2 separate regions of the Homo sapiens genome follow, and region 1 is linked to region 2. The links come from fine-mapping of genetic effects on gene expression. A gene starts in region 2. The other region holds a variant in brackets. All regions are shown on one strand. Distances are from middle to middle. Region 1 has its middle 25 kb from the start of PLAGL2. Region 2 holds the start of TM9SF4 (transmembrane 9 superfamily member 4).

What was found.
Region 1: its variant is fine-mapped to the expression of TM9SF4 in whole blood (TOPMed, PIP above 0.99).

The regions. Positions count from the first base shown.
Region 1 is chr20:32,180,112-32,185,488 of GRCh38, reverse strand. No RefSeq gene overlaps it. Among named protein-coding and RNA genes, the nearest start is that of PLAGL2, 25 kb to the left of the region's middle. RefSeq lists an enhancer at 2,932-3,432 and a silencer at 4,853-5,033. The variant C/G (reference allele first, on the strand shown) is at 2,917.
Region 2 is chr20:32,107,287-32,112,663 of GRCh38, reverse strand. TM9SF4 (transmembrane 9 superfamily member 4) reads right to left here and starts at 2,950. Exons shown (of 18, transcript NM_014742.4): 1 at 2,909-2,950. The coding sequence starts at 2,923. RefSeq lists enhancers at 1,944-2,686, 2,850-3,029, 2,687-3,431, 2,434-3,633.

The DNA of each region.
Region 1 (5,377 bases), 73 kb before region 2:
GTATTACAGGCGTGAGCCACTGCACGTGGCCTCTCTGAAATGATCTTTTCTTACCTTCTTCCACCTCCTTTCACATGTGGCAGGAGAACAGGGACACATGTTTCTGCTGCTTTGCTTCCCCATAGTTTAGTGTCCAGTGTCTCAAAGATTACTGGTATGAGTGACTGACTTTATTCCAGCATACAGAGTACTGTGCTGGGCTCTGACAAAGGCATAGTTCCTGCCCAAAGGATTTGAGTTGGGTGGAGAACGGTGTGGGTGATGAAGGGTGACTGTTTAATTTGCCATCCAGCTGGAACATATCTGGGAATGAAAGGGTCACGACTAATAATTACACCGGGGCAAGAGGTGTAACTGGTATCCAACGGTCATCCAAGGAGACAAAACCCAACTGTGTTCAACGTGGCTTATAGTTCACCAGGTATGTGATGATGTGGGACCAGAGGGCGGAGACTTCTCTGAAGTTGGGTCACGAGCTGGGTGTTAAAGAATAGGCAGTAGTTTGGAAAGTGGAGCCAGAGAAGGGAATTCCTGGCAGAGCGAACAACATGAGCGAAGGCACTGGATGGGAAAATGTGCGGCGTGGTTAACGTATAGCATGTGCTGTGGGTTTGGCTGCTTGGGAGAGGCAAAGCTGAATGGGTAGATTGAGGCCACTTTTTTCTTTTACTTATCTTTTATTATTTTTTTTTTCAAGAGCAATACCTGAAGAGGCCACTTTCTGAAGATAGGAACTCTTGAATGCCAAGCCAAGGCATTATCCTGTGGATAGTGAGGAGGGGTATCAGGCATGGTTCAGAGGTGGAGTGATCTCACAGGGCATGTCTGGAGGAGTGTCTGCAGTTATAGACCCCTAGTGTCTTCAGTTTGAACCTTATCTGTCCATCTAGGCTATAGCTCTTCTAGGAAGCCCTCCATGATTTCCCCAGCCCACAACAGTGTCTGCCACCTCCCATGTACAGCCTAAAACCAGAATCTGGGCACCAGTGCCTGTCTAGGCTGCACCCTCTGGGTGCTGTTTTGTGCCAGATGACTGCCTCTAATGTTCCCGGGGGGATCAGGGTGAGCCTGTAAGCATCCTGGTGATTCTAGGAGGTGGTGCCCCATGTGGTTTGCCTGACTCTTGCCTGCTGGTTTGCAGGCTGCGTTGGCTCCTGCAGCCATACTTGGGCCCAGCTGCATCCTGCATTCCCCTAGGGCCCAGGCAATGGTTCTTTTCTAAAATGGGCACTTACCTGCCTACCTGTTCTCTCTGTGGCATAGCCAGTGGCTTGCTTCCTTTACATGGCACCAACGGCATGTCCCACCTGCCCTGGGGGCATGAGTCTCCTCCTCAGAACCCACTCCAAGCTTGCTCACTCATTCATGCCCTGAGTCACTGATATATCCACACATCTTAGCACCAGCTATAATAGGCATGGATGACCATTCTGGTCCCTGCCCTCAGTGAGCTCCGGGGTCCAATGGTGCAGCTGAAGAACATTGATAATAATCACCAAAGTTTATTAACCACCTACCATGTGCCAGGGCTTTATATGGGTGCAGCAGGCAGAGTGTGGCTGTCTAAGCCTGAGTCAGACCATGCCCTTCTGCTCCAAACCCAATGGCTGCAATATACAGAGGAAAAGCCAACATGCTCTGCCTGGCCTGCAAGACCCTCCTGATCTGACTTCCAGTCACCAATCCAACTTCATCTCCTATGCTTCTCCGCCGCCAGACCACTTTCGAGCTCCAGCAGCCATTTTTTTTTTTGAGATGGAGTCTCACTCTGTTGCCCAAGCTGGAGTGCAGTGGCACGATCAAGGTTCACTGCAGCCTCAACCTCCCAGGGCTCAGGTGATCCTCCCACCTCAGCCTCCTGAGTAGCTGGAACTACAGGTGTGTGCCACCATGCCCAACCAATTTTTGTATTTTTTGTAGAGATGGGGTTTCACCATGTTGTCCAGGTTGGTCTTGAACTCCTGGGCTCAGGCAATTTGCCCACCTTGGCCTCCCAAAGTGCTAGGATTTCAGGTGTGAGCCACCATGCCCAGTCTACACCAGCCTCTTGCTAGTCTTCAAACCTGGCTGAAGACCTTGCTTCCTCTTCCCTCTGCCTAGACGCTGCTTCTCCAGATGTTTGCATGGCCGGCTCCTGCCTTCATTAAAGTTTATCAGTTCAAACATTAGTTACACCTCTTCCAGGGAAGCCTTCCCCGACCACCCTTTCTAAAACTCACCCTGTCACTCTCTGTCCCCTTTCTGTTATAGCACTTAACAACCACCTGATATCACATTGTATATTCATTTTATCTGTTTTTTTTCTCTACACTCTTCGGGAATTTTTTTTTTTTTTTTTTTGAGACGGAGTCTGGATCTGTCACCCAGGTTGGAGTGCAGTGGCATAATCTCAGCTCACTGCAACCCCCTCCTCCTGGGTTCAAGCAATTCTTGTGCCTCGGCCTCCTGTGTAGCTGGGATTACAGGCATGCACCACCATACCTGGCTAATTTTCGTATTTTTAGTAGAGATGGGGTTTCCCCATGTTGGCCAGGCTGGTCTCGAACTCCTGACCTCAGGTGATCTGCCAACCTTGGCCAAAGTGCTGGGATTACAGGCGTGAGCCGCCACACCCAGAGGCACTTTGTTTTATTCATTGCTAAATCCCCCTTACCTAGAGCAGCACCTGGCACAAGTAGTTCTTTGTGAAATGAATGAATGCATGTGTCACATCTTTGAGGTTCAGGAGGGTCTTCCTGGTGGGCGAGGCGACAGCATGTATGAAGGCATCAGATGCCTGCTGAAGGCCCTTCTGGGGTTTGTATCTCTAGCGATAGGAACTCTCTACTGCCCAAGGCAGTACCGCCCTTTTCCAGGCAGTCTTGGAATTGAGGCAATAAATGTCCCGGAGCCCATTCCCGACTCCTACTACAGAGA[C/G]ATGGCCACGTGGCCTACACATGCTCCAAGCGTGGAGGAAGGAGGCCAGGGTACAGAGGGGGCTTCCTGCTCTGGCGTGGAGAGCAAACACAAGCCTTGGATCCCAGGGTTCTGCTCCCCTCTGTCTCAGGTGCCTGCCCTGTTCTGTTCTGTTGGCCCGGGAAGGAACTTTGGACAGGCTCTTTTAAATCCAAGAAAAACCTGTCCCGAAACTATGGCAATTACTTGTAATCTGCAACTGCCTTGATTACAGCTCGGGGGACTTTGATATTTTCCTCCAAGGATACCATTTCAGCACAAAAATTCAAGGAAGTCCCCAGTGCTTGCTTGCTCTTGCTCAGCAGGAGAACTAAACGTTGACTGGAGTCGGTGAACTTTGAGGCCTCCACCCACAGGCCCCACCATCAAAGCTGACTCAGGATCCTGGGGCACAGGGCTGTAGTGCATCAGGCACCCGCTGGAAGGCTGATAGGCCTGTGCAGGGCTGCTCTTGCCACTTCCCCCTACATGGCCTTAGGCATGTCTTTTCACAGCTATTGGCCCTTTTCTCATCCAAAGGAGAAAGTCAAAACTCCTTAGCAGGAGGTAAAAGTACCTTTAAGGTGCTCCCCTCCATGCACCTCCAGCCCTCCAGGTGGCTGGCTCAGTGACAATGCTTTTGCTTTTGGTGGCATCTAACTGAACCACTAAGTCTTTTTTCCTTATATGAATATTCAGAGGGGAATTGAGGCAGTGGGGCTATTTGATCCATCACCTCAATGATGCGTCCAGGCTCGGGCCTTCTCTGATCTGCCATCCTTCTTGTTAGTTCCATCCTCAGGTTGGTGCCAAGATGGTGGCAGCAGCCCCAAGTGTCCACACTGGAATATGGCAATTCCAGAGAGGGGAGACTATGTCTTACCATGGCTCCTCTTAAAATGGAGGAAGCCTTTCCCAGAAGCCACTGTAGATTTTCCTGGTCCTATACCTTACTGACTAGAACTGGGTCACATGCCCAGTCTTGAATTAGTTATTGGCAAGGGGGAGCAGGGTAGTGGTAGACCAAGCATTGACGCGGAATGGATGTCTGCTCATAATGTCCAGTGCCTAGAGGCAAGCTAAGACCACTGCCTCTAGGCGCTCACAGTCACACTTTGGCTTTTCTGTGAGACCTCACAGCTGGCACTTTCACCCCATGATGGCCCTCAGGGTTAGAGGGTGCTGACTTCTAGGCTAGCACAGGTCCAGTTGCAAGGGTTCTGGACCTAGAAAGTTCCTTAAGTTGAGCCAAGTCACTGCCAAACTAAGATTCCTAGGAGGCAGGCCCTTTAGACTCTCCTTTGGTGAGTGAGGAGAGATTGAGCATCAATTGTGTGAGTGTCTCTTTCACTTCAAAGAACTTGGCTGGGTGTGGTGGCTCACACCTGTAATCCCAGCACTTTGGGAGGCCAAGGTGGGCACATCACTTGAGTCTAGGAGTTCGAGACCAGCCTGGGCAACATTGTGAAACCCTGTCTCTACAAAAAACATATAAAAATTAGCTGAGTGGGGCCAGGTGTGGTGGCTCACGCCTGTAATCCCAGCACTTTGGGAGGCCGAGGCGGGCGGATTACAAGGTCAGGAGATCGAGACCATCCTGGCTAACATGGTGAAACCCCGTCTCTACTGAAAATACAAAAAAAAAAAAAAAAATTAGCTGGGCATGGTGGCGGGCGTCTGTAGTCCCAGCTACTCAGGAGGCTGAGGCAGGAGAATGGCGTGAACCTGGGAAGCGGAGCTTGCAGTGAGCCGAGATCGCGCCTCTGCACTCCAGCCTGGGCGACAGAGTGAGACTCCATCTCAAAAAAAAAAAAAAAAAAAATTAGCTGAGTGTGGTTGTGGGCGCCTGTAGTCCCAGCTATTCGGAGGCTGAGGTGGGAAGATTGCTTGAACCTGGGAGGTGGAGGTTGAAGTGAGCTGAGATTGTGCCACTGCACTCTGACCTGGGCAACAGAGCAAGACCCTGTCTCAAAACAAAACAAAACAAAAAATCACTCATACAGTGCTTCGCAGAGGCCCTGTGATCTTACAGGTAAAAAAAGGCGGTGCAGACCGGGCGCAGTGGCCACACCTGTAATCCCAGCACTTTGGGAGGCCAAGGTGGGAGGATCACCTGAAGTCAGGAGTTTGAGACCAGCCTGGCCAACTTGGCGAAACCCTGTCTTTACTAAAAATACAAAAAAAAATTAGCTGGGCGTGGTGGCAGGCGCCTGTAATCCCAGCTACTTGTGAGGCTGAAGCAGGAGAATCGCTTGAACCCAGAAGGTGGAGGTTGCAGTGAGCTGAGATGATGCCATTGCACTCCAGCCTGGGCAACAAGAGTGAAACTCTGTCTCTAAAAATAAAAATAAAAAAAGCAGTGCAGAGACTTCTGTTTCTAGGCAAGGTGGAGTAACAGAGATCAGATATATTCGTCCGCCTGAAACAAAAGTAAAACTAGACA
Region 2 (5,377 bases):
GCAGTGCAGTGACACGATCTTGGCTCACTGTAGCCTCCGCCTCCCGGGTTCAAGCGATTCTTGTGCCTCAGCCTCCCGAGTAGCTGGGATTACAGGTGTGTGCCACCACACCCTGCTAATTTTTGTATTTTTAGAAGACAGGGTTTCGCCATGTTGGCCAGGCTGGTGTTGAACTCCTGGCCTCAAGTGATTTGCCTGCTTCAGCCTCCCAAAATTCTGAGATTACAGGCATGAGCCACTGCTCCCGGCCTGTTGTTGTTTCTTAAGACAGGGTCTCGCTCTGTTGCCAAAGCTGGAGTGCAGTGCAGTGATCAGGGCTCACTGAGGTTCAAGTGATCCTCCCACCTCAGCCCCGCAAGTAGCTGGTACTACAGGTGCACACCACCAAGCCCAGCTAATTTTTTCTTTTTGTATTTTTTTTGTAGAGGGGTTTGCCATGTTGTCCAAGCTGGTCTCAAACTCCTGAGCTCAAGCGATCTCCCAGCTTTGGTCTCCCAGAGTGCTGGGATTACAGGTGTGAGTCACTGTGCTGGGCAAAAATCACTGTCCCTTCCACTGTGCTTAGACTAAAATCCAAACTCCTTTCCACAGCCTCTGTGCCAACTGAGAACAAGCTGGCTCCCTTCAAGTACTGTCCTGAAGGGGATGGGAAGGGGAAGCAGCCTAATACAACACTATTTCAAAATGCAATCCACAGACAACAAAATGTAGACCGCAGTCCTTCCCATTTCCAGGCATGCTTCTCAAAACAGTTGCTCTTGCTTCCCTCCAGTTTCATCTTGTATCATTCTCTCCTACCCCAACCCTCATCATGCTTCGGCCCCTCCAGCCTTCTGTGTGTTCCTCAAAAACACCAAGCTCCCTTCCACATCGGCCCCTTACACTTGCCATTTCCTTTGCTTGGAACATTCTTTGCATGGCTGGTTCCTTCTTGTTAATTATGTTTTAACTCAAGTCACCTCCTCTGAGAAGACTTCTTTCTGACCACTCAATCCAAAGTAGTTGTGTCACCCAGTCACCCCTAATCACTATCACTTCATTTTGCTGTCCTCACAGCATCTACTGGTGACATTATTTTGTTCACGTATTTACTTGTTCACTGCCTGTCTCCTCAAACCAGAAAGGCTCCACAAGTGTAGGGACCTTGACCCTGTAATTCACAACTACATCCCTAGTTCCTGGAACAGAATTGGTACTCAAATATTTGTTGACTAAATAGATGTGTACCACATATATGTATTGCTAGCTTATAACCTCTTAAAAATCTCTGAACAAGGCAGGGATTTCCCAGTGCAGTGCCGTAAATACCACTTTACTCAATGTTTTCCTTATAGCAAGAGAGGGTGTGATTTCCTTTTAAGTTCTTACACTATCTCTGTTCTGAATGTGGTACCAGAATATATATACATATATGTAGGTTTCAACATACTACTTTGAGGATTTGCCCCACTCGTGGTTCAGCCTGAAGTCTGAAACCACAGAAACCAGGTAAGGCCATGAAATCTTTTTACCTGACCTCTGAAGTTCTAAATAAGGAATCCCTCATTAAACAAAGGTAAGTTCTCAGTCAGCTAAGAGAAGGAGGGAAAATTGCTACCAGTCAATAATATATCCCTGTTTGGAGAAAACCAACACCAAATTATTTAAGCCAGAATCTTCCTTTGCTAAAGTCAAATGTCATTTCCTTTTCTCTGAGTCTTCCTTGTCATTCACTCCCCGGACGAAATTATCTGCTGAGGAGGCAGTATGCAGGAAGACCCAGGAAATCATTCTGGACTAAGTGACTTCAATTTTAGTTCTGGTCTCTTGACAAGCAGAATTTGAACTAAACTTTTAGAAAAAGGGCCAGTCCTTCAAAGATTTACTTCCAAGGTTCTGCACCAGGAGCCCGCAAGCTCTGACCCAACTTCCAAGCATGGCTATTTTACCTCCACCCTCATCCACACACAGACTTCATCCCAACATATAGCTTCATAATAAAGAGCCTTCATCCCTAACGAGCTGTGTGGCCATGTTGGGGAATGGGAAGGAGAGCAGTGAGGTGGGGCTATTAGTGTTTTTCAAAACGTAGTTCACAGACCACCTCCACTATATAATCACTAGAGTGCTTATAAAAGGGCAGATTCCTGGGCATCACCTAGCCCTATGGAATTAGAATCTCTGGGAGTGGGGCTGCTCAGGAAACTGCATTTTTAGCATGCCTCCCCCTACACACCTCGAGATTCTTATGCACAGTAAAGTTTGAGAACCAACAGGGTAAAAGGTCCCTAAGAGAGGGGCAGGGAGTTGACTGAGAGAAGACAGGAAGGGCAGGGAAGCCTCTAGGGATGAAAGATGGGGGTGGGGTAGGTGAAGGCAAGCTCTGGGGTAGCGGCAGTCAAGGGGGTGCGCGATGGGGACAGCTATGAGTGTAAGTGAGGACAGGGCTCTGAAAAGGATCTGAGGCAGCGCTTGGGCTGGGAGGGTGGTCAGAGGAGAGGTCACATCTGCGGACTGGTTATGATGGTGGGGAGGCGGGGAGAGCAGGGTCTGGACGTGACGGGGAGGAGCAAGGATGAGAATAACGGGAGGGGGTCTTCAGAGGGGTCAGGACAGGGAGGTGAGAAATGGAAAATGGGGCTCACAGTGGGCGGAGACCAAAAGTAGAATGGGAACCGGCGAAGGCAGCAGCCGAGGTCTTCCTCCGAAACGGCGCCTCCCCCAAAACTCGGGGCCTTCACAAGCCTGAGTGCAGGGGCAGGGCCAGGGAGGTGGATTTCGGGGAAGACAAGCCCAGTCAGAGGTAGCCCTCAGGCCTGAGTCAGGGGTCCCGGAGGTGGCTCAGGGCCAGGCATGGGGTGCTGGAAGATCCTGGGATACCCCGGAGGGCCCCGCTCCAGCTCCCGCTCCCGGAGTCTCCTTCACTCACCATCGCCGTCGCCATCTTGGATCCACGTGTCGCCGTAATGACGTCAGCGGAAGTGGTGCTCCCTGGTTACGGAGTTTAACTCCACAAGGTGGTCGTCTGGCTTCAACCGCTCCTGTAGTGGCGGTCAGCAGAGGGGAAAAGGAGTCTTAGCTCCTGCTCGACAGTCTGGTCTGGGAAAGTAAGGTCGCTGATTAGGTGAAGAGAGAGAACGGTGTAACTAAGGAAGCCATATTAGCTCCTGGCAGAAACTGAGCCTCCCTTATTCCCGCTGCATTGTGGGTAATGGGGGTGTGCGAAAGTGCGCTCGTGCTCTCAGCGCCATCTTTACTACTGGCAGGAAGACCCATTGCCAGGGTTACCTGAGACCTTGATTTGAGGGAAAGGGTGGGCACTGGGGCTCCAAGAGCAGTACGACTCCAAGAATAATTTGTAATTATATATTTAAGTATTTGTTTGATTTTAAGTATTTGTTTGACTATCCTATATCCTCTTTAGTAGACTGTAATCCCCATGAGGGTGGACCCTGTTTTTTTGTTTGTTCGTTTTTTACCTTGCTCTTCCTCATTCCCATCTGTGAAATGGGAAGGGGGTTGGTTCATCATAGGCTTGTGATGAGGATTCAGTGACACAGTATTACATAGGATGTATTCAATAAATAATTGTCAGTATATGTTTATGTATACTCCTTTGGGCTTGTGGTAGATGCCCAATACATTATTTTTTAAATGAACGAGTGAAAACCAGCATATTCAGTGGAGGGAGATATCTCTGAATGTGGACGTCATGCACTAGCTTAGTGTGTGACTCCAGACAAGTCACGCAATCTTCCTAAGCCTCAGTTTCCAAATCTGTGAAAAAGAGACTCAAAGAATCATGGTATTAAGGTTGGGAAAGAACTCAAAGTTCATTTGACCCATGTATATCACTTTAAACTGAATACAGTACCAGTGCTATCTTAGACTGTTTTAAAAAAGCTATTAAAAGAATAATAATGATTAATAATAATCATCAGCACTTGCCGAGCATTTTGTGTGCTGCAGCACTTAGCATTATGCTAACAGTTCATTAGACTCTTTTTATCTAATTCTAGGGGGCAAGGGACAGTTGAACTCTGATCCCCACCTATGGGCACCACTGTGGTGGATTTTCTGCAAAGATGGCTGCCACGTAGTTCTGTCCGTCCTTGCATGATGAGCATACGGTTTCTCTCCTCAAGAGATAGACTCTGTTTTACCTCCTGTTGAATCTGGCTGGTCATGTTGGTTGCTTTGACCAATAGGATGTGCTACAAGTGATTCTGCCAGTACTGAGCCTAGGCCTTAAGAGGATTGAAAACGTCTGATTCTACCTTCTTGGTTATAAAGAAGTGTAGCTACTCTGCTGGAAAGGCACCTGGAGAGAGAGGGAGGCCCAGCCAACTCCTCAAGACATTCTAGAAACTACAGCTAAGCACTATAATATGTAACTGAAGTCATCTTGGACATTCCAACCCCCACTGAGCTACTAGCTGAATGCAGCTACATGAATAACCTCATGAACACCATGTGGACCAAAAGAACTGCCCAGCTAAGCCCAGCTTTAGAGTGGGGTGGTTTATTATAGATCATTTCAGTAATAGATCATTGAAACACACACCCATTAACTCTTGTGACCTGCACAACCATCCTGAAGATTGGCAGATTGGCTATTAACCCCAAGGAGGAGGAAGCTTGAGAGACTAGGGGGAATTTGCTGCAGTCTCATAGTTTCCAGACTTGGAACCAGTTTTCCTAGAGCTTCGATCCTGAGTGTTTCCCACCATTTCTAGCTGCCTGAAGAAAGATAACTGATAAGGAGCAAAGCTCCATAAATGGCCTATTATTTTTTAGTATTTCCATTTTTTTTCTCATGCTTTGTATTTTTCCCTAAAGGCCTTTCATATCCCAATCTCTTTTGGTGACATATGCCAGAATCCTAGAACTAGACTGCCTGGGTTCAGAACGCATTTCCACCACTCATTAGCTCCATAACATGGGCAAGTTTCTCTTTTTTTTCTGAAAAAAATTTTTTTTGAGATGGAGTCTCACTCTGTTGCCGAGGCTGGAGTGCAGTGGCGCAATCTCAGTTCACTGTAACCTCTGACTCCCGGATTCGAACAATTATCTTGCCTCAGCCTCCTGAGTAGCTGGGATTACAGGTGCATGCCACCAAGCCCGGCTGAGTTTTTGTATTTTTAGTAGAGATGGGGTTTCGCCATGTTGGCCAGGTTGGTCTAGAACTCCTGACCTCGAGTGATCTGCCTGCCTTGGCCTCCCAAAGGGCTGGGATTACAGGTGTGAGCCACTGGACCCGGCCTAAATATTTTTCATTGTTGTAAAATATGCATAACTAAATATTGACTATTTTAATCATTTTTAAGTGCACAAATCAGTGAAATCAACTACATTCACAAAGTTGTCAATCATTACCGTCATCCGTCTCCAGAACATT